4 linked regions of the Homo sapiens genome follow. The protein of the gene in region 2 interacts with the protein of the main gene of each other region in a biochemical or structural test. Each region holds a gene or a part of one and is shown on either strand. Other genes may lie near its edges. The genes, in order: NRG1, LIMK1, PAK2 and PAK6.

Region 1 (7,522 bases), on a different chromosome or scaffold from region 2:
TTTATGAAATTCCAAGAAGGGATGAATAAATAAATCTCTTGGATGCTGCGTCTGGCAGTCTTCACGGGTGGTTTTCAAAGCAGATACTGCCTTCAAGATGGCCCTTTATTCCAGAATGTTTTGGCTTTCCTTTGGGGAGATTGGGTTGGGTTGGGGGAGTTATAGCAAAGGTAAAATGAAGAATGGAGGAAAGTAAACAAAGAGATATTAAATAGTAATATTGAATTCATAGATTCTCTTTCTCCATTTTCACCTGAGCTGGAAGATGACCAGTATTTCTAGCCCATCAGTAAGCTGTTACCTGTTCCTATTTGTTTGCAAGTCTGCTGGGTTTTACTTTATTTTATTGTCATCTCAGGCTAATCTTTGACCATTTACTAAAAGGTTTACATAATGTCAAATCCATACTTATGTGGTAGTTACATGGGAGGAGATGACTTTGATAGAGTCTTTCCACTCTTGGACTGGGAAGTTACTTCCAATAAAATAACACATTCTGGGCTTGAAGGCCTGTTGCTTACTTTTGCAAGGGCCTTTCCTTCAAAATGATATTTTAGAACTTTGTGGAATTTATGAAATCAGAGGTAAGCTATTACCTGTTTGTTTGCAAGTCCGCTGAATTTTATTTTATTTTATTTTATTTTATTTTATTTTATTTTATTTTATTTTATTGTCATCTTAGTCTAATCCTTGACCATTTACTAAAAGGTTTACATAATGTCAAATTCATACTTGTGTGGTAGTTCCATGGGTAGGGATGACTTTCATAGACTCTTCCCACTCATGGACTGGGGAGTACTTACAATAAAAAATGACAGGCTGGGCACGGTGGCTCACGCCTCTAATCCCAGCACTTTGGGAGGCTGAGGTGGGTAGATCACGAGGTCAGGAGATCAAGACCATCCTGGCCAACATGGTGAAACCCCATCTCTACTAAAAATACAAAAATTAGCTGGGTATGGTGGTGCTGCCCTGTAGTCCCAGCTACTAGGGAGGCTGAGGCAGGAGAATTGCTTGAACCCAGGAGGTGGAGGCTGCAGTGAGCTGAGATGGTGCCACTGTACTCCAGCCTAGGCAACAGAGCAAGACTCCGCCTCAAAAAAAAAAAAAAAAAAAAAACATTCTGGACTTGCAAGCCTGTTGGTTACTTCTTCAAGGGCCTTTCCCCAAAAATGATATTTTAGAACGTTATGGAATTTATGAAATCAGAGGTTTCCCTGCAACCAATCTATGAAAAAGTAGGCAGGGTTTAAACTGTTTTAAAACTTTAGTCTTAAATTCATATTTTTTTAATGTATTAAGGAAGTCTATCCATTCTGTTTCAATCGTTTTTTGAAACATGAAAAGGAAGTTAGAGATGAAATCATTCTTCATCACTACAAGTGATATTTATCCTTAAATGTTGACATTTCCCCACTGTGCTGGGCTTCTAGATGATATCTAGGACTACGAAATATTCCTGAACCTAGAGATTATGGAGAGAAAAGATGAATCACTTTTATATGTTGGTTGAATTTAAATTAGCATTTCTCAGAGAGCTTAATTTAAGTACCCCCAAAGCCAAAAGTTTGAAGGCTCAAGGCCCACATATTTCAATTTCTCAGGCACGTTCCCAGTTTAGAGGCAGCTAGCTCTCACGTCTGTATCACTGTGACTCCGGGAGAAGCAGGGAGGTTCATACGTTTTCCGTTCCTGTTAGCAAGAGTTCAGATGATGGCATTCCATGTCATTTCAGGTCACGTCAAATTAGACTCTGTGAATGCCAGTGTGAAGAAAAGAGTCATTTAGTGTTGTGCGTTGGTAACATTTTTTATCAAAAGCTGAGAAATGTGACTCTGAATAAGCCACGTCTTCCTCAGTGCCAAAAGTCAGGACTTCTTATACTGGGGGAAGAAAGCATGGTGTGGTGAAAACAGTGTGCTCGGTGGCCTAATGGCAAGAGTCACTGAGCATTATCAGACATAACATGATAGAAGGTAACAGGGTACAGCCAACCCTTGAGGCATCATGAAAGAGATTGACCAAAGACTGATATAGCTGTGGGTTTTGGAAGAGAGATAGACCAAAGATTGGACATAACCTCCATTGTGGTAACTGTGAAGCCAAATTAGGTTCTCTCAGGCTTACCTTTGACTGTGTTTGTTGGACACTGGGATGGATAGTTCCAAATTGAATGTTAACTAGTTGCATTTCATGGAAAAAATGAAAAGCACACAAATGTATGACACTGTTGTCAGGAATAAATCTAAGTTACTATGCTCTTTTTTTTTCATAAGACATAACCTTATAGCTGAGCTAAGGAGAAACAAGGCACACAGATCCAAATGCATGCAGATCCAGCTATCAGCAACTCATCTTAGATCTTCTTCCATTCCCCATTTGGGCTTCATTCTCTAAGACCCCTTGGCCTTTAGGAAGGTATAGTATTTAAGTAATACTTCTTTCCCTTCCGAATCCCTGAGCCTTGGTCCTTATATAAGCTGAGAGGTTTCCAGGACCTAATGCCTTCTTGTCTTGGCTCATATGCCATTATTTATAATTGTGATGAGATTGAAAATCCCAAAAGCTTTGATGAGCTAGGCAATTTAGCTGATCTTTGCATGCACTCCTGTGAGGAAACTCTTGGCTACCTAATTTTCGATTCCAAGGGTGTGGAATTTCCTAGCCTAAATAATTAAGCAGCCTACAATGAATAGAAATTCTCTGTTCTCTGATGATATAATACCGTGAACTCTGTCCCCTTACCTTCCCTGCTATGTGCCTCTTATTGCACCACACTTATGCAGGGTATTCTGTGCTCACACAGGTATGTGTCAGCCATGACCACCCCGGCTCGTATGTCACCTGTAGATTTCCACACGCCAAGCTCCCCCAAATCGCCCCCTTCGGAAATGTCTCCACCCGTGTCCAGCATGACGGTGTCCATGCCTTCCATGGCGGTCAGCCCCTTCATGGAAGAAGAGAGACCTCTACTTCTCGTGACACCACCAAGGCTGCGGGAGAAGAAGTTTGACCATCACCCTCAGCAGTTCAGCTCCTTCCACCACAACCCCGCGCATGACAGTAACAGCCTCCCTGCTAGCCCCTTGAGGATAGTGGAGGATGAGGAGTATGAAACGACCCAAGAGTACGAGCCAGCCCAAGAGCCTGTTAAGAAACTCGCCAATAGCCGGCGGGCCAAAAGAACCAAGCCCAATGGCCACATTGCTAACAGATTGGAAGTGGACAGCAACACAAGCTCCCAGAGCAGTAACTCAGAGAGTGAAACAGAAGATGAAAGAGTAGGTGAAGATACGCCTTTCCTGGGCATACAGAACCCCCTGGCAGCCAGTCTTGAGGCAACACCTGCCTTCCGCCTGGCTGACAGCAGGACTAACCCAGCAGGCCGCTTCTCGACACAGGAAGAAATCCAGGCCAGGCTGTCTAGTGTAATTGCTAACCAAGACCCTATTGCTGTATAAAACCTAAATAAACACATAGATTCACCTGTAAAACTTTATTTTATATAATAAAGTATTCCACCTTAAATTAAACAATTTATTTTATTTTAGCAGTTCTGCAAATAGAAAACAGGAAAAAAACTTTTATAAATTAAATATATGTATGTAAAAATGTGTTATGTGCCATATGTAGCAATTTTTTACAGTATTTCAAAACGAGAAAGATATCAATGGTGCCTTTATGTTATGTTATGTCGAGAGCAAGTTTTGTACAGTTACAGTGATTGCTTTTCCACAGTATTTCTGCAAAACCTCTCATAGATTCAGTTTTTGCTGGCTTCTTGTGCATTGCATTATGATGTTGACTGGATGTATGATTTGCAAGACTTGCAACTGTCCCTCTGTTTGCTTGTAGTAGCACCCGATCAGTATGTCTTGTAATGGCACATCCATCCAGATATGCCTCTCTTGTGTATGAAGTTTTCTTTGCTTTCAGAATATGAAATGAGTTGTGTCTACTCTGCCAGCCAAAGGTTTGCCTCATTGGGCTCTGAGATAATAGTAGATCCAACAGCATGCTACTATTAAATACAGCAAGAAACTGCATTAAGTAATGTTAAATATTAGGAAGAAAGTAATACTGTGATTTAAAAAAAACTATATTATTAATCAGAAGACAGCTTGCTCTTACTAAAAGGAGCTCTCATTTACTTTATTTGATTTTATTTTTCTTGACAAAAAGCAACAGTTTTAGGGATAGCTTAGAAAATGGGTTCTGGCTTGCTATCAGGGTAAATCTAACACCTTACAAGAGGACTGAGTGTCACTTTCTCTCTGGGGGAATGATCCAGCAGCTTATCTAGTTGACAATCAAAACACGGCTGATAAAGGTGCAATCATTTCTGACATGTATTTTTCACTGATTTTGAAGCTAGTGATTGGTTGTGTCTTCTTGGCTCAAAAAGAAGCATATTACGGCACAAAAAGCCCAGCCCAGACAGCACATGCAGCATTTTGTCTGAAATACTTCTAGAGTCAAACGTGCCTGCTGTACATAGCGATGACTTGTCATCATAGGGAAGTATTTCCATCGTAGAGTGTTCAGAAGGAGTGACTGTATAGGTGGAGAGAAGCTTAGTGACTCCGTTGAAATTTTAAAATGTGGATGACCACCCCTTTCTCCCCCTTATTTTTCTTTTATCTTTCCATGTTGCCTTGATCAGGTCATAACTATGCATGAACATTTTTTATCAGGAATGGCCGATGTGTATGTGATTTGTAATCACAAGTAATGATTCATCAGGAAATGTCAATCCTGTTGGAAAGATTGCACCTTTACTTGCAGAAGTGACCCCCACCTGTGTCCTGACCTCTCCATTTACAGGCTCTCTCACCCATTTCCCCCACCTCCTTTAATTTTTGCTTTACTGTCATAAAGTAGGACTAAGATTGGTCTAAGCATTGCATGTTCTTTTGTGATGGTAAATCCAAAGGAAGGCCTATAAGTATTAACATTTGAAATAACTGCTAATTCAGGAAAATGGAAGAAAAAAAATTATTTGAAACACAGAACCCATTTCATGGCCTGCCTGATATCTGTGAAATCAGGGCTGGAGCTTTACTTAGGATTCACATGGCCTCCTAGGAACCATGGGACAAATGGGAAACAGGTTATCGGGGGATTCATGAAGTCAGTGAGAGTAATTGCTTCTTTTTTGCGGGTGAACTGAATGTATTTCTTCACCAAATCTTGATGTTAACAATTAAAAAGAAGAAATGACATGCAAGTAGGTCTTAGCAGAAAAATGCAGGCTGGGCATGAGTCATGTTGTTACCCTCCCACATGCTCCTACAATCCACAGAGATGCCTGTCTGCAGGTTCTTGAAGTTATTGTTAGTATTTGGTATCTCAAATTTTTCGTCACTGTTCACATGCCACTTTCTCTGTGCACAGTGGTATCCTCATTTGCTTTTTAACCTACACTGAGGAGTCTTTGTCAGGTTGCACTGATTTTCCAATTCTGCAGTAATGAGTAAGCTCACGGCATGGGGAAGAAGACAGTCAGTCCAATGAAGTTCTCTAAATTATTTTAACATTGCCTTTGAAGGCCTTGACTCATCCTTAGCTATTTCAATGAAGAAATTCCTACCATGAATTTAAAACCCTAAAAATTCTGTTTCAAATTCTTTGGGCATTGGGGTACTCAGATATCCCATTGTGGAAGAATTTTAAGAATAAATAGAAGTTTCTGTTGAGAACCATGAGCAACATGTTTCTTACAATGAGAATTGCTATGCATTTTAAAATTGCAAATATATATGAAAATTGAAGACAAGAGGAAATTGTATTTCTAACTTGATTCTGATCACTCACAGAGGTGGCATATTATTATAGTTGGGACATCCTTTGCACCCTTCATAAAAAAGGCCAGCTGACTGCTCAGCATCACCTGCCAAGGCCACTAGATTTGTGTTTACAGGGGTATCTCTGTGATGCTTGTCACATCACTCTTGACCACCTCTGTTAATAAATTCCGACAGTGCAGTGGCGATCGGAGTGTGAACTTATGTTCCCAGCATATGGAAAGCTATCTTAGGTTTTAAGGTAGTAGAAATTGCCCAGGAGTTTGACAGCAACTTTGTTTCCCGGGTCTAAAATCGTATCCCACTGAGGTGTATGCAGTGGAGCATAATACATGCAAATACATGCAAAACTCCTTTTGTTTCACCTAAGATTCACTTTCTATCTTACTTTCCCTTCCTGCCTAGTGTGACTTTTGCCCCCAAGAGTGCCTGGACAGCATTCTAGTTTCTACAAAATGGTCCTCTGTGTAGGTGAATGTGTCCCAAACCTGCTATCACTTTCTTGTTTCAGTGTGACTGTCTTGTTAGAGGTGAAGTTTATCCAGGGTAACTTGCTCACTAACTATTCCTTTTTATGGCCTGGGGTTAAAGGGCGCATGGCTCACACTGGTGAAAATAAGGAAGGCCTGGTCTTATCTTGTATTAATAATACTGGCTGCATTCCACCAGCCAGAGATTTCTATCTGCGAAGACCTATGAAACACTGAAGAGAAATGTAGGCAGAAGGAAATGGCCACATATCACAAGTTCTATTATATATTCTTTTGTAAATACATATTGTATATTACTTGGATGTTTTCTTATATCATTTACTGTCTTTTTGAGTTAATGTCAGTTTTTACTCTCTCAACTTACTATGTAACATTGTAAATAACATAATGTCCTTTATTATTTATATTTAAGCATCTAACATATAGAGTTGTTTTCATATAAGTTTAAGATAAATGTCAAAAATATATGTTCTTTTGTTTTTCTTTGCTTTAAAATTATGTATCTTTTCCTTTTCTTTTTTTTAAGAATAATTTATTGTTCAGGAGAAAGAATGTATATGTAACTGAAACTATCTGAAGAATGCACATTGAAGGCCGTGAGGTACTGATAAACTAAAGAATTTATTATTCAAAATACTAAGCAATAAGTAATTGTGATTTATTTAAAGTTTTGTCCATTTTCCATGAAAGACATACTGCAATAAAAATGCTACTCTGTGGAGACCTGGGAGTGTTGCTCAGCAGACTACAGCTTCAGTCTGTTAGACCAGCACCTTTCATCTCATTCCCATAGTTATGCTAATTTAGGATTGTGTTCCATGGACCCCATGATCACCTTGTCTATACGTTGCTTCTTGTCTGTCCATTGCTTTTGCCACACCACCTGTTCTCAAATCATCTCCTCCCTACCAATGCTGTTTATCACTTTCTTCCTTGTTGAAGAGGCCACACAACCAGACAGTACTATGCTTCCTTTTTCCTCCATACACAATAACAGAGAGAGAATATTCTAGGGCATGACTGCCTGGATCCTGGCTGTTGCTATCTTTTGTAGTGGCAGTAAGAAACTCCTTCAGACTAATGAAAATGTCAACGTGCCATTCAATCACGAAAGGTAACGAAAAATGCTCTCATGGTTCAAATAGTCCAATGGCCCATAGTGGCCTAAAAGGCAGCCAGTTGACACCTGGCCATGCTAAGCTTCCTTATACCATCCGCTAATGACTT
Region 2 (7,522 bases):
TACCTGTTGCTACCTAGACACCCCCTGGGGGGAAAACGGGCCCCAGACTCCCCATTTGGTTCCTGGGAACACAGACACCTGGAACTTGGCCTCTGCCCTGATGTGCGCCCTCCCACGCACCCAAGCGTTATATGGGGCATGGTTCGGAGGCTGCCTCCTGGCCCAGCCTCCAGGGAGCTATGGACCAGACAGGTGGAGCGTGAACAGGGTTGCTGGGGCAGCGGCGTGTGGAAAGGGGCGTAACTCACACAGGCCCTCCAGCTCATGCAAGGAGAAGCAAGAGGGGACAGCCCTGCCAAGACAGAGGTTACAGCAGGGCGAGAGCATGGTGTGTGTGTGCAGCTGGGCCGGCTCTGGGCCACGGCAGAGAGAAGGCAGGGGAAGCGGTCCACGGGGTGGGAGAAGGCAAGTCAGGGCCTGGCTCTGAGGAGAAGCCTGGGTCCCCACTGTCCCAGCTGAGGGCCACCTCCCGCGGAGGAATCTGGTGGGGGTGGATTCTCCAGAGGTGGGGACAGGGGCAGCTGAGTGGCCCTGGCTCAGTCGGGGACCTCAGGGTGGGCAGGCAGTCCGCTCTCGCCGCGCCGGTAGGTCTCCCAGAAACCTCTGTCCAGCTGCTCCAGCTGTGGGCCCAGTGGCAGGTGGCCGGCCAGGTGCATGCGGAGGGTCTCCAGCCAGTGTTCCAGCTTCACAAAGGATGGCCTGGGTGACAGGTGGGTGGGGAACGGTGGGTCTGGCTGTCCCGGGAATCGGCCCCACCGTCTCCCAGGCCAGGGCCCCACCCCACTCACCTCTTCTCGGGGTCCAGATCGCAACAGCGCACGGTGATGGGGAAGAAGCTCGGGGGGCAGTTTGGGGGGCAGTAGCGGTCCAGGAATCCTCGCACGTTGAGGCCAAAGTCCATGGTGCGGGGCAGGTAGTCAGGGTCTGCGTTCACCCGCCCGATGATCTGTCCAGTACAAGGCCCGGCAGTTACTCCAGGGGGCCCTCAGCCTGGGCATCTGGGTGCCATCCAGGTGGTTTGAGGGCAGGTGGCACTGGGCCTGGCTGCAGCCTGACTGCAGTACCCCATGGGGGCCAGCCCATGCCTTGCTGTGGGCAGGCTTCCTGGCATGAGGCCCCTGCAGATGCTGAGCCTGCAGCCTGGGTGAGTGGGGAGGAGCCCAGGCCTCAACACCGCTGCTACCCAACCCTGGACCTACCTCGCACAGGACGATCCCAAAGGAGAACACATCCACCTTCTCATCATAGCTGCGGCCTGGATAAAGAGACCGACTGTCAGCAGATGAACACATGGGGGTGCCAGGGATGCCAAAAGGCAGGGGACCAGGCCAGCTGGGAGGATGCCCCGGCCGGGAGGTCCAGGCCCAGGAGGCAGATGCCGGCAACCTCTATGGGAACCCAGGCTTAGGCTCTTTCCCCCAACCCCACCAGGTCTGAGCAAGCCTTTGGGAGCTCTGAGGAGCAAGGGGCAGAGCCCTGGACAAGGAGTTCGAGGCACCGATCAGCTGCGTGACTTTGCACAAGTCATGAACTCTGTGCTGGTCCCAAAAGGGAACCATGTCAGGTCTCTGGAATCTGTGAATGTTACTGGGTCAGAAAAAGGGTCTTTTGCAGATGGGATTAAGTTAAGGATCTGGAGATGAGATGATGCTGGATGATCTGGGTGGGCCCCAAATGCCACTGCAAATGCCCTCTTGAGAGAGACACAGAGAAGACACAGCAGAAGAGGAGGAGGTGGCCCTGTGAAGACAGGGGTGGAGACTGGAGTGATGCGGCCACAAGCCCAGGAATGCAAAACAACCAGAAGGTGGAAGAGGCAAGGAATGCATTCTCCCCTAGATCGCCCTGGAGGGAGCGCAGCCCTGTTGGATTTCAACCTTCTGGCTTCCAAAACTAAGAGGGAATAAATTTCTGCTGTTTATTTTATCTTGAGATGGAGTCTTGCTTTGTTGTCCAGGCAAGAGTGCAGTGGTACGATTGTGGCTCACTGCAACCTCTGCCTCCTGGGTTCAAGCGATTCTCCTGCCTCAATTTCCCGAGTAGCTGGGATTACAGGCGCCTGCCACCATGCCCAGCTAATTTTTGTACTTTTAGTAGAGATGGTGTTTCACCATGTTGGCCAGGCTGGTCTCGAACTCCTGACCTCCAGTGATCTGCCCGCCTCGGCCTCCCAAAGTGCTGGGATTACAGGTGTGAGCCACTGTGCCTGACCATTTTCTGCTGTTTTAAATAATCAAGTTTCTAACAATTTATTACAGCAACCTCAGGAAACTGACACAGACTCTCTGAGCCTCAGTTTCCTTATTGTAAAATGGGAATGATACCAGCTACTTAATGATGTTAAAAATAATCGGTACATGGCCGGGCACAGTGGTTCACACCTGTAATCCCAGCACTTTGGGAGGCCGAGGCGGGTGGATCACCTGAGGTCAGGAGTTCAAGATCAGCCTGGCCAACATGGTGAAACCCCATCTCTACTAAAAATAGAAAAATTAGCCAGGCATGGTGGCAGGTGCCTGTAATCCCAGCTACTAGGGAAACTGAGGCAGGAGAATCACTTGAACCCAGGAGGTGGAGGTTGCAGTGAGCCGAGATCACGCCACTGTACTCCAGCCTGGGTGACAATGCAAGACTCCATCTCAAAAACAAAAAACTGGCCGGGCACGGTGGCTCACACCTGTAATCCCAGCACTTTGGGAGGCTGAGGCGGGTGGATCACGAGGTCAGGAGATCGAGATCATGGTGAAACCCCGTCTCTACTAAAAATACAAAAAATTAGCCAGGCGTGGTGGCGGGCGCCTGTAGTCCCAGCTACGTGGGAGGCTGAGGCAGGAGAATGGTGTGAACCCGGGAGGCGGAGCTTGCAGTGAGCCGAGATCGCACCATGCATTCTAGCCTGGATGACAGAGCAAGACTCGGTCTCAGAAAAAACAAAAAACAAAAAACAAAAAACAAAATACCCGAAACAATTAGTACTAAATGTCAATTCTCATTTACTGAATGCCAACTAGGTGGAAATGAGTTTACAACCTTTAATCCTCACACTAATCCCTAAACATAGGAAACACTAAGACTTTTTTGTTTTTTGAGACAGAGTCTTGCTCTGTCGCCCACTGCAACCTCTGCCTCCTGGGTTCAAGCAACTCTCCTGCCTCTGCCTCCTGGGTTCAAGCAACTCTCCTGCCTCAGCCTCCTGAGTAGCTGGGATTACGGGCGCCCGAAACCATGTCCAGCTAATTTTTGTATTTTTAGTAGAGATGGGGTTTCACTGTGTTGGCCAGGCTGGTCTCAAACTCCTGACCTCATGATCCACCTGCCTCGGCCTCCCAAAGTGCTGGGATTACAAGCGTGAACCACTGCGCCCGGCCACTAAGACTGTTTTATAGTCTTCTTTGCGGGCTATGTTAACTCTGTGTGTGTGTGTGTGTGTGTGTGTGTGTGTGTGTGTGTGTGTGTGTGTTTGACACAGAGTCCCACTCTGTCGTCAGGCTGGAGTACAGTGGTGCGATCTCGGCTCACTGCAAGCTCCGCCTCCTGGGTTCACATCATTCTCCTGCCTCAGCCTCCCGGGTAGCTGGGACTACAGACGCGTGCAACCACGCCCAGCTAATTTTTTTGTATTTTTAGTAGAGATGGGGTTTCATCATGTTGACCAGGATGGTCTCAATCTCTTGACCTCGTGATCCGCCCACCTCAGCCTCCCAAAGTGCTGGGATTACAGGAAGGTTTTTTTTTTTTTCTTTTTGAGACACAGTCTTCCTCTGTTGCCCAGGCTGGAGTGCAGTGGTGCAATCTTGGCCCAATGTAACCTCTGCTCCTGGGTTCAAGTGATTCTCCTGCCTCAGCCTCCCTAGTAGCTGTGCCACCACACCCGGGTAATTTTTGTATTTTCAGTAGAGACAGCGTTTCACCATGTTGGCCAGGCTGGTCTCGAACTCCTGGCCTCAAGCAATCCGCCTGCTTCAGCCTCCCAAAGTGCTGGAATTACAGGTGTGAGCCACTGTGCCTGGCCTATTTTTTGTTTTCTTGAGACAGGGTCTCACTCCGTTGCCCAGGCTAGAAGGCAGTGGTATGATCATAGCTCACTGCAGCCTTGATCTCCTTGGCTCAAGTAAATCTCCCGCTTTGGCTTCCTGAGTAGCTGGGACCACAGGCATTAGGCACCACGCCACATGCCAGGCTAATTTAACTAGGTTAACTATGATGAGGTGATGGCTGGGGTCTGCCTGCCCTGAACCTGTGTTCATGTGTCACCTGCTTGTAGAAGGACTTTATAACCTATAATCTGGGCATATATAGGACCATTGACAGCAAAGAAATGGACTGAGGGAAGCAGACCCTGTGGGAGGCAGAACTATGATCCCCAAAGATGACTGCGTCCTGATCCCTGGGACTTGTATACGTCCCACCTTCCATCGGACTCTGCAGATGGGATTAAGTTGAGGGTCTTGAGATGGAGGGCTGCTTTTGGATTATCCAGGTGGGCCCAATGTCACCGTAAGGGTCCCTATCAGAAGGATGGAGGGCCATGGTGGCTCATGCCTGGAATCCCAGCACTTTGAAAGGTCAAGGCAGGAGGATCGCCTGAAGCCAGGAGTTTGAGACCAGCCTGGGCAACATAGTGATACCCCCGTCTCTATTAAAAATTTAAAAAATTGGCCAGGCGCGGTGGCTCACGCCTGTAATCCCAGCACTTTGGGAGGCCGAGACGGGCGGATCACGAGGTCAGGAGATCGACACCATCTTGGCTAACACGGTGAAACCCCGTTTCTACTAAAAATACAAAAAATTAGCCAGGCGTGTTGGCGGGCGCCTGTAGTCCCAGCTACTCGGGAGGCTGAGGCAGGAGAATGGCGTGAACCCAGGAGGCGGAGCTTGCAGTGAGCTGAGATCACGCCACTGCACTCTAGCCTGGGAGACACAGCGAGACTCTGTCTCAAAAAAAAATAAAAAATAAAAAATAAAAAAATTAGCTGGGTGTGGTGTTGCATGCCTGTGGTCCCAGCTATTCAGGAGGCTGGGGTGGGATGACAGTTTGAGCCCAGAAGGTTGAGGCTGCAGTGAGCTATGGTGGCACCACTGCACTCCAGCCTGAGTAACAGAGCGAGACCCTCTTTAAAAAAGAAAAAAAAAAGGAGGAAGGTTAGAGCCAGGGAAAGAGATGCGGGGATGGATGCAGAGATCAGAGAAGAGAAGATGCTTTGCAGCCAGCCCTGAAGACAGAGGAGGGGGCAGCAACAGGAGGAATGAGGAAGCCTCCACGAGCCAGAAAAGGTCAGGAAACAGGTGCCCCGGAGCCTGCAGAAGGAGCTCACCCTACCGGCGTCTTGATTTCAGCCCGGTGAGGCTGACGCTGGACTTCAGACTCCAGAACTGTATGATCATTTATTTAAGCCACTAAGTGTCTTCTATTTATTTATTTTTTGAGATGGAGTTTCGCTCGTCACCCAGGCTGGAGTGCAATGGCGCGATCTCGGCTCACTGCAACCTCTGCCTCCCAGGTTCAAGCGATTCTCCTGCCTCAGCTTCCCTAGTAGCTGGGATTACAGTACTACAGTACTGGGATTACACCCACCACCATGCCCAGCTAATTTTTGTATTTTTAGTAAAGAATGGGGGTTTCACCATGTTGGCTAGGCTGGTCTCCAACTACTGACCTCAGGTGATCCACTCACCTCAGCCTCCCAAAGTGCTGGGATTACAGGCGTGAGCCACCGTGCCTGGCTGCCACTAAGTGTGTTATAGGAGCAACAGGACCCACAGGGTAACTGAAGAGCCAAGGAGGCTGGGAGGGGCCAGGGGCTTGGGAGGTTACAGCTCTCCTGGGCTCCCCCATGGCTTCCCGTGAGGGCCATGATGGGCAGGGCTGAACCACTCACCGTTGATCATCTCAGGTGCCATCCAGTAGGGGTTGCCCACCACGGTGTAGCGCTTCTTGCGGTCTGGCTTCTTGAGGCTCCGCAGGCCCTCAGGCTGAGTCTTCTCGTCCACCATGAGACGCGCCAGCCCGAAGTCAGCCACCACCACATTCTTGTTCTGGGAAGGTGAAGCCGGGTCATGCTGGGACCCGATCCTAGTACTGCCCGCTTGGCCTGCCCCTCCCCAGGACCCCAAGCCAACCTGTAGACAGCCCAGAGAACATACCTCTGATACGCTGTATTGGCACAGGGTGGGGACCCCTTCCTTCCCCAAACCCATCCGCTCTTTGCAAATGGAGCTGCGGGAAGCACCTGAAGATAGCAGTGTGGCTTCCTCCCTCCCACCACACGCTGCACCCTCTGCCCCCTCCCCACCTGCTCCCCAGACCGTCGTGGCGGACCCACTGCTCCCTCCTGCAAGCGCTCCCTCCCACCTGCGGGGGCACTGATGCTGCTTTGTTTCGGAGAGAAGACAGGAATTCTTTTGTTTTTTTTTTCAGACGGAGTCTTGCTCTGTCACCCAGGCTGGAGCGCAGTGGCGCGATCTCGGCTCACTGCAACCTCCGCCTCCCAGGTTCAAGCGATTCTCCTGCCTCACCCTCCCGAGTAGCTGGGATTACAGGCGCCTGCCACCATGCCTGGCTAATTTTTGTATTTTTAGTAAAGACGGGTTTCACCATACTTGGCTAGGCAGGTTTCGAACTCCTGATCTCAGGTGATCCACCCACTGTGGCCTACCAAAGTGCTGGGATTACAGGTGTGAGCCACTGTGCCCATCAAGACAGGAATTTTGATTATAGACCCAGGTCCTGTGCTTGGCATGCCACCAGATTTACTATTTATTTAGGTTGATTGACTGATTGAGATAGGGTCTTGCTATGTTGCCCAGACTGGTCTTCAACTTCTGGCCTCAAGTGGTCCACCTGCCTCAGCCTTTCAAAGTGCTGGGATTACAGGAGTAAGCCACCATACCTGGCCCAATTTTATCTTTTTTTTTTTTTTTTTGAGTTGGAGTCTTGCTCTATTGCCCAGGTTGAAGTGCAGTGGCACGATCTCAGCTCACTGCAAGCTCTGCCTCCCAGGTTCACGCCATTCTCCTGCCTCAGCCTCCCAAGTAGCTGGGACTACAGGCGCCTGCCACCATGCCCAGCTAATTTTTTGTATTTTTAGTAGAGACGGGGTTTCACCGTGTTAGCCAGGATGGTCTCGATCTCCTGACCTCGTGATCCGCCCACGTCGGCCTCCCAAAGTGCTGGGATTACAGGCGTGAGCCACCGTGCCTGGCCTAATTTTATCTTGAATATTCCCAATAAGCAGGTGAGGTCTATGTTTTTTGCTTTTCGGGTTTGATTTTTTTTTTTTTTTTTTGAGGCAGAGTCTCCCTCCCGTGGCCCAGGCTGGAGTGCAGTGGCACGAACACAGCTCATTGCAGCCTCAACTTCCCAGGCTCAAGCGATCCTCCCACCTCCACCTCCTGAGTAGCTGGTACTATAGATACTCACCACCATGCCAGCTAATTTTTTAATTTTTTTGTAGAGACAAATTTTTTTATTTTTTTGCCATGTTGCCTGGCTGGTCTCAAACTCCTGGGCTCAAGCAATCTG
Region 3 (7,736 bases), on a different chromosome or scaffold from region 2:
AGGTGACCCTAGAAGGGAAGAAGTGATGAAACTCAACTCTGATCACAGAAGAAAACAACCAGTATTTTATTTTTTGGGGGCAATGAGGGATTTTTTTCCTTTCCTATTCTGCTCTGTTAAGGCACAAAAAGGATACTAGGAAGAGCTTGGACACACAATTTGCAATTAACACCCTCCCTCTGATTAGTCTGGAAACTCAACTCTTATACCAAACTGATGGAAACCTTTACGACTTAAAGTCTTGAAGTTGACCCAGTTTCTTTTTCTTTTTCTTTTTTAATGAGACGGAGTCTCGCTCTGTAGCCCAGGCGGGAGTGCAGTGGCGCGATCTCGACTCACTGCAAGCTCCGCCTCCCGGGTTCATCACGCCATTCTCCGGCCTCAGCCTCCCGAGTAGCTGGGACTACAGGCGCCTGCCACCAAGCCCGGCTAATTTTTTGTTGTATTTTTAGTAGAGACGGGGTTTCACTGTGTTAGCCAGGATGGTCTTGATCTCCTGACCTCGTGATCCGCCCGCCTCGGCCTCCCAAAGTGCTGGGATTACAGGCGTGAGCCACCGCGCCCGGCGAAGAAGACCCAGTTTCAAATTTTAACCAAAAGTGTAAAAGTCAGAAAGCCAAAAGAAATATACTCAAATATTATTATAATAATAATCGATTTTGATGGATAAAAGGAAGAATCTAACAATTCCTACTCATTTTATCCTTGGCTACTTGAAGTTCTTAAATATTAGAAAAGTATAATTGAAAGTTTATCTTTAGCTACCTGAACAAGTTCTAGTCTCTCTTAAAAAGTATAATTGAAATAGAAACTGTTGGTGGTGTGCCGTGGCTCACGCCTATCCCAGCATTTTGGGAGGCTGAGGCGGGCAGATGACCTGAGGTCGGGAGTTCGAGACCAGCCTAACCAACACGGTGAAACCCCATCTCTACTAAAAATACAAAATTAGCCGCGCGTGGTGGCGCGTGCCTGTAATCCCAGCTACTCAGCAGGCTGAGACAGGAGAATCGCTTGAACCCAGGAGGCGGAGGTTGCGGTGATCGCACCATTGCACTCCAGCCTGGGCAACTGAAACTCCGTCTCAAAAAAAAAAAAAAAAAAGAAATATTAATTGTTAACCGCATCTACTTGGGAACCTGTCTATCATAAAGATCAGAGAGCCCTATCGCCTGTATACTCGAACTATAAACTTAATTTTGAATTTGGGTTTGCAAGGTTAGTATTAAATAGCACGGAGTCCAGAATAGTATCTCTCTCTGAATGAGAGTAAACCATAAACCAAGGCCCTAAGGGAAGTGAAATACCCAGGAACTCTTCCTTCATAAAAATATCTGCTGATTAGAAGAAACTGGCAGAGAAGCCAACATCTACAGACCAAGTTTCAAACTCCAACAAAACTCCAACCTTTCTACACCTTAATCCCTCAGGCCAATAAAACATCCATTAAGTTAAGGACAACTGATACTACTATTTAAGAAATGATGACAGTATTGAAGCTGAGTATTGGAGCCACTTTTTTCAGAGCCTTGCTGGAGGGAAAGGTAACAATGGGCTACTTAGTGAAAACACAAAATACACTGAATTTAGGTCAACCTGTTACCAAATCGGAAAGTTGGTTTAAGACCTACATCTATTACAGGTTCACTTTCCGTAATAAGTGTCAATCAATGTGCTTGGCTAATAAGTAGCTCGAAAGATTTAATAGCCGAGGATGACACAGTGAAAAAGTTGCCTGAAATCCATACTCCTAACAGAACATGAAAAAGGCTCTTCATATATACACGAGCATGAGTGGGCTTTACAGAAGCCACAGACCTTCTGGCAAAGTTGACAAGTTTTAACCTGCTTTAAAAATTACTATTCACTGCCTTCATCCCAATGTAACTTTACTGAGTGTTATTCTATTGGACAACCCTACAAAAACAAAATCCCCAGAGCAAATTCTTGTACATTTCAATATCCTGCCTACTTATAAGAGCGGAAGAGTCGAACACAGCAGGGGAAAAAACGTGACGTGCACAACCTTGATCCAAAACACAGCTCTTCGTAGTTTAATTTTAGGCCTAACCATTTTGTCTTTTTATAAAGGTTAAAAAAGAAAACAAAGAAAGGACACATCGCCTGTAACGCAGAAGTGAGATAATGATATCAACCGGAGTTCGTTATTTATCAAGGGACAACAAATCACGCTCACACTGCCCAGGGAGAGTACTACTAAAATTAAGATACAAGGATGGGTACAACCTCACACCCACTGACGATGACACGCTTCTGTTCTTGGATGACTTATCTTTAAAGAATTAGTTAAAAGGTTGAGTGGCAACGTTTTGTGTTTGTGCGTGCGTGTGTTTCCAAGAGAGCCAAACATGGTGAAAAACCAATCTTAACTTCACCTAAGTTATCTAAAGAAGCAAATTTCACCCCTAGGCTGAAGCTCAAACAGGAGCGAGGAGAAGCTCCGAAAGATCAGTTCGTAAGCGGTGGCCCTCAAGCGCCCGGGACGCTCTACGTTTTTACCAATGTGGAATGTGGAAAAGAGGTTACAGGCTGGAGCTGAGAAAACAGTCAAGCTACTCGCGACAATATTCCTGAGCAGTGAAACGGGTGAACAGAGAGCGAGCAAGCAGGGGCTGAGAATCAGTGAGAGGAAAAATCAAGGAACAAAACCGGAGAGTCTGGTCCAGCATTAAGAAAACGGAGCAAAGGAAGAGGGTGAAACGCGAGGGGAGGGAAGACCGAGAGTCGGCAGAGACCGTGGTGCCGCGAGGTTCAGAGCAGGGCTGGGTCCAGGAAGAGTCAGACCTCCGCAGCCCAGCGAGCTTCCCATTTCTGGCTAAAGCCAGCGAAGAAAACGGCCCTGGGGAGCAGACAATGAGCCACCGCCCCAGGAGCTGCGGCTCCCAGCACGCAGGTGGCGGCTCCCCGGCCCCGCGCGGGGCAGGTCGGCCGTCCCGGGCCGCTCCCGCCCGCCAGGCCACGGAGAAGGAAGGAGGAGGAAGAGACCCGGCCTGCGTCCCGCGCCGGCCGGCCTGTGTGCACTTACCCCGGGCAAGGCAAGGTCCCCGCCCCAGCGAGGCGCCTCGGTCAGAGCTCCCGGCGGGCTGCGGAGCCGCCCCGGGCTAGCGCGCGGTGCGGGGAGGGGAGGGGAGGGAAGGGGAAGCGGGGCGGGAAGAGACGCCGCGCTGGAGCAGCCGCTGCTACCGCTAGGCCCAGCGGCGGCGGAGTCCTGCGCACGCCAGGGAGGGGAGGGGAGGGAGCCTTCGGCAATGGCGACGGCCCGGGCCGGAGGGGAAGCGGAACAACCGCCGCCGCTGCGCGTGGCCACAACCCTGGGGGAGGAAGACGGCGGGGAGCGGGGCGGGGCGGGGCCAGAACCCAGAACCCCTCCCGCCCCGAAGCCGGAGCTCCCCGGGGCGGAGACGAGCGCCACCTCCCATGGGCAGGCCCGCGCGGGGGCCGCTGGGAGTAGTAGTTCGGTGATAGACGTTGCTTTTATTCCTTGGGTAGTCTTTGTATTGAGAGGAGCAGCCAGTCCCTCATTTAATTCAGCATTGTCTCCAAGCAGGTCTCTGCCGACGGAAGACGCTGACAGACGATTGCTGTTATACACATCTGCTCCGCGACATTTGTTTCTGGGAATTCATCCGTTATCCATTTTGCTTTTTTGCTTACAAATTCTTAACTAAAATTTTGCTGCTAAATTAAGTATCACCTCCTTGCAAATTAAGACTTCCCTATTTTATCCACGGAGGAGTTCATCAATGTTTCACTTATTCTACAAATATTTGAGTGTCTGATATGGACTAGACACTGTTAAGCATCAGAAATACAAGGGTGGTTCAGGTGCGGTGGCTCACGCCTGTAATCCCAGCACTTTGGGAGGCTGAGGCAGGCGGATCACCTGAGGTCGGGAGTTCGAGACCAGCCTGGCCAACACGATGAAACCCCGTTTCTACTAAAAATACAAAAATTAGCTGGGCATGGTGGCACGCATCTGTAGTCCCAGCTACTCGGGAGACTAAGGCAGGAGAATCGCTTGAACCCAGGAGGAGGAGGCTGCAGTGAGCCAAGATCGGGCCACTGCACTTCAGCGTGACAGAGTCGTCATGCCTCAAAAACAAAACAAAAAACACAAAAGAAATGCAAGGGTGAACACGATTCACCAAGCCTTTGTGGAGCTTATATGAGGACGCAGTAATTAAAGTAGTCACACCTGGTATAAGAAAAAACTTGGCGAGGTTACTTTGGATAGGGTGGTCGGAGAAGGCCTCGTTAAGGAGGTGACACTTAAGGCAAGAACAGAAAGAGACAGCAATAAGAAGCACCCAGAGAAAAGCAATACAGGCAGGAGAAGAAAGAAAAGGGCTTGCTACGGTCAGTTAAGAAGGCCTGTGTAGCTGGGGCCTAGAACAAGAAGGCGGTACTATTAAGAAAACACTACAGCAGACAAGATTCAGGTCATGAAAGATCCTGAATGCCATGGTAAAAAGTCTATATTACAAAAAACCATTAAAAGGCTTTTTTAAGCAGGAAAGCGATGTTACCTGGCTTACACTTTAAGATCACTAGACTGCAATGTGGATAATGGAGTATAGAGATGCAAGAATAGAAGGGAAATAAAGTAGGAAGGCAGTGGAAAGAAAGAGGAATTGTGCTTCTCTATCAATGTAGAGCAAAAAACTCAATTGATGCAGTGGGTACAGGAGAGAAAGGAATCAAGGAGCAACATGGCACAGTAAGAGATAACCTGAAAAATGCTCTGATTATTAAACACACAGAAACACTGGATAAATAAGACATCCTTTCAAAGGCATAACTTGCAAGAATGAAAATAGAATGTTTCTGACAGTCTTCCAAATTTCACACTCAACCTGAAGAAGGGGCAGGACACCAGAGTGGTAAGCAGGGCAGTGAAGCCATGGTTGTGTTGAGGGCACCTACTTATCTCAGAAATCTCTAGAGTTTTAATAGGTGCACAGGAAACTAAAGACAAGGACTTGGGCCTATACAAGAAGTCAGGACTGTGATCCTGCATAGGACTGGAAATTCAAGGCGCTATACCCTCCAAGAACAGACTGGGGGGAAAAAAAACCCTATGCTAGCCCAGGGAGACACACAGGACATTTGTTTACTTTGGCCTGCAGTGGGCTTGCAGGGCAGAAGAAAATTTTCCCTTTAGAATTAATAACCCTTTAGAATTTTCCCTCACTAAGGTTTTAAAGTTCAAATTTGTCAAGAAAGTGGTCCCAGGCTGGAGTTCTGGGGGGCCTGGAAGAAACAAATACAAATCCTGACTGCACAGGTGTACCCTCAACCTCGGTCTCAAAGGATTTCACAGATAAACAGGATTTCCGAAGCCAAACATGAGCACCCGAAATACAATACACCTGAGGAAATAAGCAGCGATGAGTGAGTCAATAGAAACTACAAAGAACATAATGAAACCCACACAGACTTTAGCTGCTGGAATTGATGGCTACAGAATATACAGTACGCCTATTTAAATGATTAAAGAAAGTAAGACAGGAGCTAGAAAACACGAGCAAGAAACAAGATGCTTTTTTTTTTTAACGACCAAACAGCTTTGAAAATGAAATAAGTAGGCCAGGCGCGGTGGCTCACACCTGTAATCCCAGCAGTTTGGGAGGCCGAGGTGGGCAGATCACCCGAGGTCAGGAGTTCGAGACCAGCCTGGCCAACATGGTGAAACCCCAGTCTCTACTAAAAATGCAAAAATTAGCCAGGCGTGGTGGTGGGCACCTGTAGTCCCACCTACTCAGGAGGCTGAGGCAGGAGAATCACTTGAACCTGGGAGGTGGAGGTTGCAGTAAGCCAAGAACATGCCATTGCACTCCAGCCTGGGCAACAAGAGCAAAACTCCGTCTCAAAACAAAAACAACAACAACAAAAGAATTAAGTAGAATTTCTAGAAACAAAGAATAACTGAAACCAAAGCCAATGTTTGGTTAAATAGCAGATTACACACAATTGAAGAGAAAATTAGTAAACTGGAAGACAGACCAAAAGAAATTACTGAGAACAGCCTAGAGACAGGAAAAATGAAAGCAAGCTTAAGAGACATGGGGATAGATTGTTAAGGTCTCTACCATACTCCTAATGAGAATTCCAGGAGAGAAAAGAGAAAAACCAAGAGAGGCAGATAATGATGAGATAATGGCTGAAAAATTTCCAGAATTGATTAAAGACAGGAATCTTCAGATTCAGGAAGCAAACTGAATACCAAGCAGGATAAGTAAAGAAATTTCAAACACATGAAAATGAAACCGCAGAATACCAGAGATAAAGCAACCAGAGAGAAAAGACATTCTGTACAAACAACTATTACATTCATAGCAGATTTCACAACAGCAAAACGGGTGCCAGTCAATAATGGTATATTTTCAAAGTACCAAGAGAAAATAACCAAGCTTAGAAGTGTACAGCTACCGGCTGGGCACAGTGGCTCACACCTGTAATCCCAGCACTTTAGGAGGCTGAGGTGGGCAGATCACCTGAGATCAGGAGTTCAAGACCAGCCTGGCCAACAACGGCAAAACCCTGTCTCTGCTAAAAATATAAAAAATAGCAGGGTGTGGTGGTGTGCGCCTGTAGTCCCAGCTACTTGGTAGGCTGAGGCAGGAGAATCACTTGAACCCAGGAAGCAGAGGTTGCAGTGAGCAGGGATCACACCACTGCACTCCAGCCTGGACGACAGAGCAAGACTCTGTCTCAAAAAAAAAAAAAAAAAAAAAAGTGTACAACTACCTAAATTATCCATCAGATGAGTGAGGATGAAATAAATATATCATCAAACATAAACAAGCTACCAACAGAGACACACTAAAGGAACTCCTTAAAAGGTATATTTCTTTCTTTTTCTTTCCCTTTTTTTTTTTTTTTTGTGACGGAGTCTCACTCTGTCGCCCAGGCTGGGGTGCAGTGGTACGATCTCGGCTCACTGCAACCTCTGCCTCCCGGGTTCAAGTGATTCTCCTGCCTCGGCCTCCCGAGTAGCTGGGATTACAGCCGCATGCCACCACTCCCGGCTAATTTTTTGTATTTTTAGTAGAGATGGGGTTTCACCATGTTGGCCATGTTTACAAGATAATACAAACAAAACCAGAAATGTTCTGTTATACTAAAAGTGATGTCATCTGCAACCATTTATCTAAGCAAGAAGAGTTATATCAAAGTTTTCTTCATTCACATTTTTATTACACTTCTGAATATTTGTATAAGTGAGTAAATGGCTGAACCACATTCCAAGCCACAATCTTAAATATTTTAAATACTGATGAAACCTGGTTGTGATGAGCAAAAACAAAAACATTCTGTATACACATACCCCCACATACTCTTAAGATGTTAAACAGTACCGTGTTCCCTCCCCGTCTAACCATATTCCAAAACGTTGCCTGTCAATCTAACCATATCCCAAAACAATGCCTGAATTGTAGCTGACATATATAATTCCATTTCAGTGTCATATTATTAATCCCATAGTGAAAGAAATGTTTCTAAAACATGAAATTCTTTCTTACGAGAAAGCATGAAATAGGTATGAAACTATACTGGGTTGAAATTTTAGTCATTTTAAAGGTCACTGTTTCTGCTTTATGGCACTGGGTTACCTTTTCCAATATTTAAGTCTCAAATACACGTTTAAAAAGAACTGTTAGGACTAGTCAGGTCATACATGTCAAATTATACAAGATGTAGTCCCATGAAAACACCAA
Region 4 (7,522 bases), on a different chromosome or scaffold from region 2:
TGTATATATGGCGAGGTCCCCAGGTCCCAGACCCCTGACATCAGGCATGACCCCTTTGACTGGTAAGTCTGAGCAGAAAGTGGTTTGGTGTTACTCCCAGACTTGTATCTGCCCAAGTGCCAGTGTCTGGAGGGCCTGAGCTTCAAGACAGGGATTCAAAGAGAGGTGACATCACAAGAGAAACAACCGTCATGTATGGGGACTCTGCTTACTTCACACACCCTAAACCCTATGAGCTGTCTTTCATTAACCCCCCTGGCTCAGATCATTTCAGTTATTTGTTCAAAATCTCTCCAAATTATTAGTGGGAGACTCCCTACAACTCATCTGCAACTCACACAGGTTGTTTTATTCCAAAGGGCTTGGTCTGTAAGGGTCCTGTACATGTGGCTCTACCTCTAGGGGGTGTTCGGTGGATCCCGAACCTCAAGACCCAGAAGCATGGCTGACATTGAGATGTGACGTGGGCTCTGATTGAGTCACGCATGGTGAATTCCTAGTGGGGAACCACTGGCTGTCCAGGGTCCCTGCCTTTCTGCCAGCTGCCTCCCAGATCTGCGACCTCCTTCAGAACCTGCCAAAATGACTAGGAAAATGCTGTTTCCATAGCAAGAGCCAAAAGAGAACATGACGGCCCTGCACTCCAGATCTTCGGGCGGATGAGTAATCCAAGCTTTCAGTTCAAGAATCATGTTTCAGTTTCTTGAAGCCTGGAAGTGACCTTTTCAGATACATAAGAACCCAGTGAGCTGTTCTGAGCCTCTTCAGATCCAAAAGCATTCAAGAGGCAGCCCTGGCCCTGTCTGCCATCAACATGTGATCCCAGGTCCGGGATCCCCTGAAGGCGAAACTAGAGCAACCCTTTGGAAGTGTCCCTCCCCTTCCCAGGCCCCCAGTTCCCCACTCTCAGATCTACCCATGCTATCCATTGCAAGCCTGTGTCACTTCTGTGTATGCAGCTCAGCACGACCTTAGGCAAAGCCAGAATCAGCAAGGCACGGGACACAGGCTTGATTGCAGGTTAAGTGTTTTATTGTTTGTTTTTTGAGACAGAGTCTCATTCTGTTGCCCAGGCTGGAGTGCAGTGGGGCAATCTCAGCTCACTGCAGCCTCAGCCTCCTGGGTTCAAGCGATTCTCCTCCCTCAACCCCATGGGTATCCGGGACTACAGGCACGTGCCACCAGGCCCGGCTAATTTCTTTGTATTTTTAGTCAAGACAGGTTTTCACCATGTTGGCCAAGCTGGTCTCAAACTCCTGACCTCAGGTGATCCACCCGCCTCGGCCTCCCAGAGTACTAGGATTACAGGCATGAACCACCATGCCCGGCCCAGGTGATGTTTTACATAGAGCTCCAATACCAGAGAGAAGAGTGTCAAGGGGAGGTGGTGCTCTCTGCCTTCTCTGGAGAGCTTTACCCCTAAGTTAGCTGCCCCTCACCCACCCCAGGCTATCCTCTTGGCTCAGGGCCTTTCTGGAATTGAGGTAAAGCACATGGTAACCATGAAGGCCCTTTGGGGGCTCCCTGATACATAATAGTCCCACACCGGGCAGCATGTCTGTGATCAGCTGGTTGGCTTTTTATTAACGTATCATATTAACAGGTTCAACCATCCTGGGACAAAGCTGAGTTGTAATAAAAAAAAAAAGCCAACAAAAAAATAACTTTAATATACTGTTGGATTCAATTCGATAGTTTTAAGATTTTCATAGTTACGTTCCTAAATGATATTGAGTCAAATTTTCCTTTTCTTGCACTCTCCTTATCTGGTTTTAAGAATCAAGGTCATACTCGTTTCATAAAACAAGCTTGCTAACTTTCCTCCCTCTTTCCCCATTTTTAAAATTCGTTGACAGACAGTGGAATGATACTTGTAATGGGCTTTGGATTTTATAAAAACACACCCCCAGAGTCTGCCTGCTCCATAGGGGACTTGGCACAGGCAAGAAGACACCTCTTTTCCTTGTTTATAGTCTGCACTGGCTTATTTATGGCACGTTTGTTGTTTCTGGGACTGTTCTGCTGGGAGCCAGCCATTTCCCTGAGGAAGCAGAGATGGAGGTGGAGGGAAGCCCTAGGCTTCTAGGGGAGCTGTGCTGGGGGAGGGGAGGGAGCCCTGAACCTGGTGCCCCAGGCCCTGCTGCAGCCACCCCTCTTTCCCGGGAGGGAGCTCAACCTTACTCTGCACTTACAGGCACCATGTTCCGCAAGAAAAAGAAGAAACGCCCTGAGATCTCAGCGCCACAGAACTTCCAGCACCGTGTCCACACCTCCTTCGACCCCAAAGAAGGCAAGTTTGTGGGCCTCCCCCCACAATGGCAGAACATCCTGGACACACTGCGGCGCCCCAAGCCCGTGGTGGACCCTTCGCGAATCACACGGGTGCAGCTCCAGCCCATGAAGGTAAGAGGGGCCGGCAGGGATGAGGTTCAGCCTCTCCCAGTACTCAGACAACCATGCCTGGCTAAACCTCAGAAAGGCCCCTGGAGGAACCACCTACTTCACAGCTATCAGTTAATCAGCTGTTTTAACTCCCTGCCTGTCAGCCTGCCATTCTCTCCCTGGGTAAGCCAGGGCGAAGGAGGCTGGGGAGACCCTCTCTGCAGGGTGGTGGGGTTGCCAGATTCAGCACATGAAAATGTGAGATGCTCAATTGCATTTGTATTTCAGATGACAACGAATAGTCTTTTAGGACGTGTCCCATTCAATATTTGGACCTGCAGCCCCATAGGGACTGAGGGCTCTCCCAGACCAGGAGAATTTTAGTTGTGAGGGTCACGACTAGTAGACCCAAGAGCCTGGTAGAAGGTGGGGTCAGGGGCCCTATCAGGGTTTGGAGGCTGCGAAGCCAGTGTGTGTGGAGGAGCCCCCGGCCTGGTGTCTCTTCCTCAGAGGGCTGGGCACATCTCTCCCAGCCACCCGTGGAGCTAGAGAATGGAGCCCCGCCCCCTGAGCTCCAGCTCCCTGGCCCAGCCGACCACACCCCTGGGCATGCTGGATGCAGCCCCATGGCACTCACCATCTGCTCTGCTGACGCTGGGCCTTCTCCCCGCATCCCTGCATCCAGCACAGGCGGGACCCACGGTGGGCCCTGATAAATTATGGAAAAATTAATGGGTGGATGACACAGCAGGGAAGGTCCTTAGGTGGTCCTCCCCAGGGCCCCCAGGGACATTCTCTGACCCTGATCTCCCAGCCACCCCTCCCTGCCACAATTGGGCAGCTCCCACACACTCTTTTCTCTTCCCCCTACAGACAGTGGTGCGGGGCAGCGCGATGCCTGTGGATGGCTACATCTCGGGGCTGCTCAACGACATCCAGAAGTTGTCAGTCATCAGCTCCAACACCCTGCGTGGCCGCAGCCCCACCAGCCGGCGGCGGGCACAGTCCCTGGGGCTGCTGGGGGATGAGCACTGGGCCACCGACCCAGACATGTACCTCCAGAGCCCCCAGTCTGAGCGCACTGACCCCCACGGCCTCTACCTCAGCTGCAACGGGGGCACACCAGCAGGCCACAAGCAGATGCCGTGGCCCGAGCCACAGAGCCCACGGGTCCTGCCCAATGGGCTGGCTGCAAAGGCACAGTCCCTGGGCCCCGCCGAGTTTCAGGGTGCCTCGCAGCGCTGTCTGCAGCTGGGTGCCTGCCTGCAGAGCTCCCCACCAGGAGCCTCGCCCCCCACGGGCACCAATAGGCATGGAATGAAGGCTGCCAAGCATGGCTCTGAGGAGGCCCGGCCACAGTCCTGCCTGGTGGGCTCAGCCACAGGCAGGCCAGGTGGGGAAGGCAGCCCTAGCCCTAAGACCCGGGAGAGCAGCCTGAAGCGCAGGCTATTCCGAAGCATGTTCCTGTCCACTGCTGCCACAGCCCCTCCAAGCAGCAGCAAGCCAGGCCCTCCACCACAGAGCAAGGTAAGTCAGGAGCCTGGCCTGCAGGTGTCCACTGGGGAGTGGGTGTAGGGACACAGGCCTTGCCTAGCCTTCCCCTTGGAGGACTGGCAAAGAGGCTCCCTGGACTGCTTCCGCCTAAGGCGGCAGAAATGTGCACGGTAACCTCTTCTCTAAGGAGGGTGGCTCGCCTCCTCCTTCCCTCCCTTCCTTTCCTTCTTTTCTCTGTGGCTGTTGTGTTGTTTCCCATTTCTGTCAGTATTTGTTCCCAAGTGTGTGGCCATAGGAAAAGCTGGATTTGCCTAGTCCAGGGGCAGCAGGAGGCCGACTTGTGGCATGTGTGACTGCTTCAGACGCACATTTTTCTTGTGAGAAAGGAAAGGGTGAAGGGAGCCCCCGTGGTGACATTTCTTGGCAGGCAGAGTGGAGCGCACCTTTTTGCTTCTTCCAGGCCCTCCAGCATCCTGTTGATAGTGACAGTAACCTCTTTTCCCATTTGGCAGAGGAGGAGACTGATAGAGAGAGGGTGAGTCACCCCCAGGCATGATGGAGAGTGAGTCAGAGAAGGAAGGTGGGGAGTGCTCTGGGGCTGCCTGTCCGGCCCGGGCCCTCTTGGCTCATGACTCTTGCGTATGAAGGCTTTACAAGCACAGCAGCCACTTGTTCTTTAGCTCCTTCCTGGGAGGGTCAAAGGCAGTCCTAAGAAACGGCTGCTGACAGTGGCATGGGTAATGGAGCCTCCCCTCCCTCCTGGGAGGGCTTTAAGACAAGCCTGGGTACTCCCCTGTCATCGGTGGGGTGAGTGTGGCCCAGCCTGCACAGGGTGTGGGTTTGGGGATGACCCGGACTACAACCTCTCTGGGTCACTGCCTGCCAGCTGAGGTACTCAGAGAAAGTTCTGGGCGGCCGCGCGTGGTGGCTCACGTCTGTAGTCCCAGCACTTTGGGAGGCCAAGGTGGATGGGTCACGAGGTCAGGAGATCGAGACCATCCTCGCTAACACGGTGAAACCCCGTCTCTACTAAAAATACAAAAAAAATTAGCCGGGCGCGGTGGCGGGCGCCTGTAGTCCAAGCTACTCAGGAGGCTGAGGCAGGAGAATGGCGTGAACCCGGGAGGCAGAGCTTGCCGTGAGCTGAGATCGCACCACTGCACTCCAGCCTGGGGGACAGACAGAGCGAGACTCCGTCTCAAAAAAAAAAGAGAAAGTTCTGAGCTTTGTGCACTCTAGTCCCCTACTAGGTTAAAGGACAGTGGGTTGGGATCCCCATGGGTTGTGGCTTGATGTATCTGTGAGAGGAACACGAGCATCTGTGAGCTGCAGGGTGTCTGGAAGGCTGTGCCCCTGGGGAGACTCAGCCAGAAAACCAACGTAAGATCAGGACAGTGCACCCTGCTGGGAAGGTGAGATTCGGAGCTTGACCTCCCTCTGTCTCTCAGGAGTCCTGCTGCGAGGCCTCAGGGATTTGGAGAAAGGGGTTGTCAACACTGGGCTGGGCACTCATTTGCATCTTTCTGGGCTCCTGCCAGCACCCCACAGCAGGGGGAGAGGCCTGTCCATCCCTGCACAATGTACTGAGTACTCACCATGGGCCACTGCTGCTGGGTATGCCGGGATGTCCCCCATACTTGTGGGAGCAGGCGGTAGTTATCTCGAGCTCAGCAACACCATACTTCCAAATCCAGGGGAGTGGTTTCCTTCTGGGCAACTCAGACACATCTTTCAAGATTTCTACTCTGAAGCCAAGCCTCTCAATGGCAAGCTGAGACCCCCCGAGCTGCTCCGGGCCGGGGCTTCTCAGCGTCCTCACTGCAGGCGCTCAGGTCAGTCCATCCTTTGTGGTGGGCTCTCCTTGCACTGTAGCAGCCTCCCTGGCCTCTACTCACTAGAAGTTGGTGGTACCCTCGGTTGGAATAACCAAAAATGCCTCCAGACACTGCCAAATGTCACTCGAGCACACCCATTAAGAACCACTGCCTTAAGCAAATTCAATAACAGATGGGGAGCATCAGCCTTCCTCCTCCTCCTCCACCACCACCTACCCCAGGAGTCCCCAGATCAAGCCAGCAGCCCTTGGCACTGGGGCTGACTCTGGACACTTGCAGCAGCTTCCATAACAGCAGTTAGGCCACAGAGGCCATGCAGTGTGCCAGGCATGGCTGCAGGAGGGTCTGAGTATAGACTCCAGGGCTCCTGTACCTAGCCCCAGGCAGTGAGGCCTGGAGTCACTCTAGCTAAAGAGATCAGGAAGACAGGGCGTGGGGGCACAGAGACCAAAGAGGCAAGACAGTTTTTTAGGAGCTTGCAGGGATTAGACATGTTCCACTTAGAGTCAGAAGGGCAAACATTGGTTAAGCACCTACCGTGTACTCCGATATATGTCAAGGATACATGGCACCAGTGGGATTGCAGCATGGGAGTCAGCAGCCACGGGCGTCCTGCGGGTTCCAGTGCCTACAGGACAACCAAACAACCCACAGGGTTATGAGGATTACATGAGATAGTACGTTGAAGGCACTTGTCAAAGTGGTAAGCCCTCAATAAATGGCTTTATTAGTAGTATTTGAGATGGCGTCTCCCTCTTTCGCCCAGGCTGGAGTGCAGTGGCACAATCTTGGCTCACTGCAACCTCCACCTCCTGGGTTCAAGTGATCCTCCCACCTTAGCCTCCCAAGTAGCTGGGATTACAGGCACGCTCCACCATACCCAACTAATTTTTGTATTTTTAGAAGAGATGGGGTTTCACCATGTTGCCCAGGCTGGTCTTGAACTCCTGACCTCAAGTGATCCACCTGCCTTGGCCTCCCAAAGTGCTGGGATTACAGGCACCTGAGCCACCATGCCAGGCCGGCTTTATTATTTTTAAAAATATTATGCCATGGCCTCTCCCCTTTAGGATACTTAAGGTATAGCCCCCTAAGCCCACAGCTGGGGAGCCATGGCTCAGGGCGGGAAATGAGGCATTGCTGTAAATGTATGCATGACTCTTCTAGTGGCTTTCTTCCCAAGAGGTCTATCACATGAGTAACTTCAGAATTAATCCAGAGCCTGTAACAATTAATTAATTCTGTTGTCGTGTCCCCCTTTCCCTTTCTTGTGTGGCCTCACAAGTTTCATCTGGTCCTTGCTTGTGATTACATTGATAAAAGCTCCCTCCCTGTGGAGACAGGCAGTGAAGCCAACGAAAGGATGCTAGAGACCAGACCTTGCCAGGCTGAAGACCAAGCCAGCTCCCCAGACTCCCCAGCCTATGTCCCAGACTCTGCTTGTGCTGGGCTCCTGGCTGGGCCATCCCTCCCCCAGCCTCCAGACGCAGGCTCCGCCCTGAGCCCAGCCAGCACCTGCAGCAGCAGCAGCAGCACAGGGACCTGGCCTGTGGAGACAGGGAAGAAACCCCTACCTCAGCCTGTCCACGTGGTACCCACACATCCTCAGAGTAGAGCTGGCCCATGCAGAAGCCCTCAAGGCCAGGAGGGGAATGATCTCATTTTACAGCCTTTCTTAGGAGCTTCAGGATGAGAGGTCATCAGAGCCACCTCAGGAGGAGCTTTAGGTGGTCCCCAAGCTTCTGCCCCGACCCACCTGGATGGGTGCCTGGAGAGCATGTTTTCTGAGTTAAGTCCACACTCAGGCCAGC

The links.
Region 1: the proteins of LIMK1 (region 2) and NRG1 form a complex in vitro, tested with the Homo sapiens proteins (one study listed by BioGRID).
Region 3: the proteins of LIMK1 (region 2) and PAK2 interact in a biophysical measurement, tested with the Homo sapiens proteins (one study listed by IntAct).
Region 4: of the proteins of LIMK1 (region 2) and PAK6, one has a biochemical effect on the other in vitro, tested with the Homo sapiens proteins (one study listed by BioGRID).

Annotation. Positions count from the first base shown.
Region 1 is NC_000008.11:32,760,942-32,768,463, forward strand, and holds part of NRG1 (pro-neuregulin-1, membrane-bound isoform isoform HRG-alpha proprotein), read left to right. Parts: exon of another isoform or gene 1-1,080; intron 1,081-2,276; coding exon of another isoform or gene 2,277-2,397; exon of another isoform or gene 2,398-2,418; intron 2,419-2,806; coding exon 2,807-3,461; 3' UTR 3,462-7,522. UniProt on the Homo sapiens protein: Direct ligand for ERBB3 and ERBB4 tyrosine kinase receptors. Concomitantly recruits ERBB1 and ERBB2 coreceptors, resulting in ligand-stimulated tyrosine phosphorylation and activation of the ERBB receptors.
Region 2 is NC_000007.14:74,114,316-74,121,837, reverse strand, and holds part of LIMK1 (LIM domain kinase 1), read right to left. Parts: intron 6,037-7,522; coding exon 5,880-6,036; intron 1,256-5,879; coding exon 1,200-1,255; intron 947-1,199; coding exon 789-946; intron 700-788; coding exon 537-699; 3' UTR 1-536. UniProt on the Homo sapiens protein: Serine/threonine-protein kinase that plays an essential role in the regulation of actin filament dynamics. Acts downstream of several Rho family GTPase signal transduction pathways.
Region 3 is NC_000003.12:196,735,465-196,743,200, reverse strand, and holds the start of PAK2 (serine/threonine-protein kinase PAK 2), read right to left. Parts: upstream 3,345-7,736; 5' UTR 3,044-3,344; intron 1-3,043. UniProt on the Homo sapiens protein: Serine/threonine protein kinase that plays a role in a variety of different signaling pathways including cytoskeleton regulation, cell motility, cell cycle progression, apoptosis or proliferation.
Region 4 is NC_000015.10:40,262,587-40,270,108, forward strand, and holds part of PAK6 (serine/threonine-protein kinase PAK 6), read left to right. Parts: intron 1-2,194; 5' UTR 2,195-2,199; coding exon 2,200-2,403; intron 2,404-3,255; coding exon 3,256-3,909; intron 3,910-7,522. Other genes in the region: BUB1B-PAK6 (serine/threonine-protein kinase PAK 6), read left to right, coding at 2,200-2,403, 3,256-3,909. UniProt on the Homo sapiens protein: Serine/threonine protein kinase that plays a role in the regulation of gene transcription. The kinase activity is induced by various effectors including AR or MAP2K6/MAPKK6.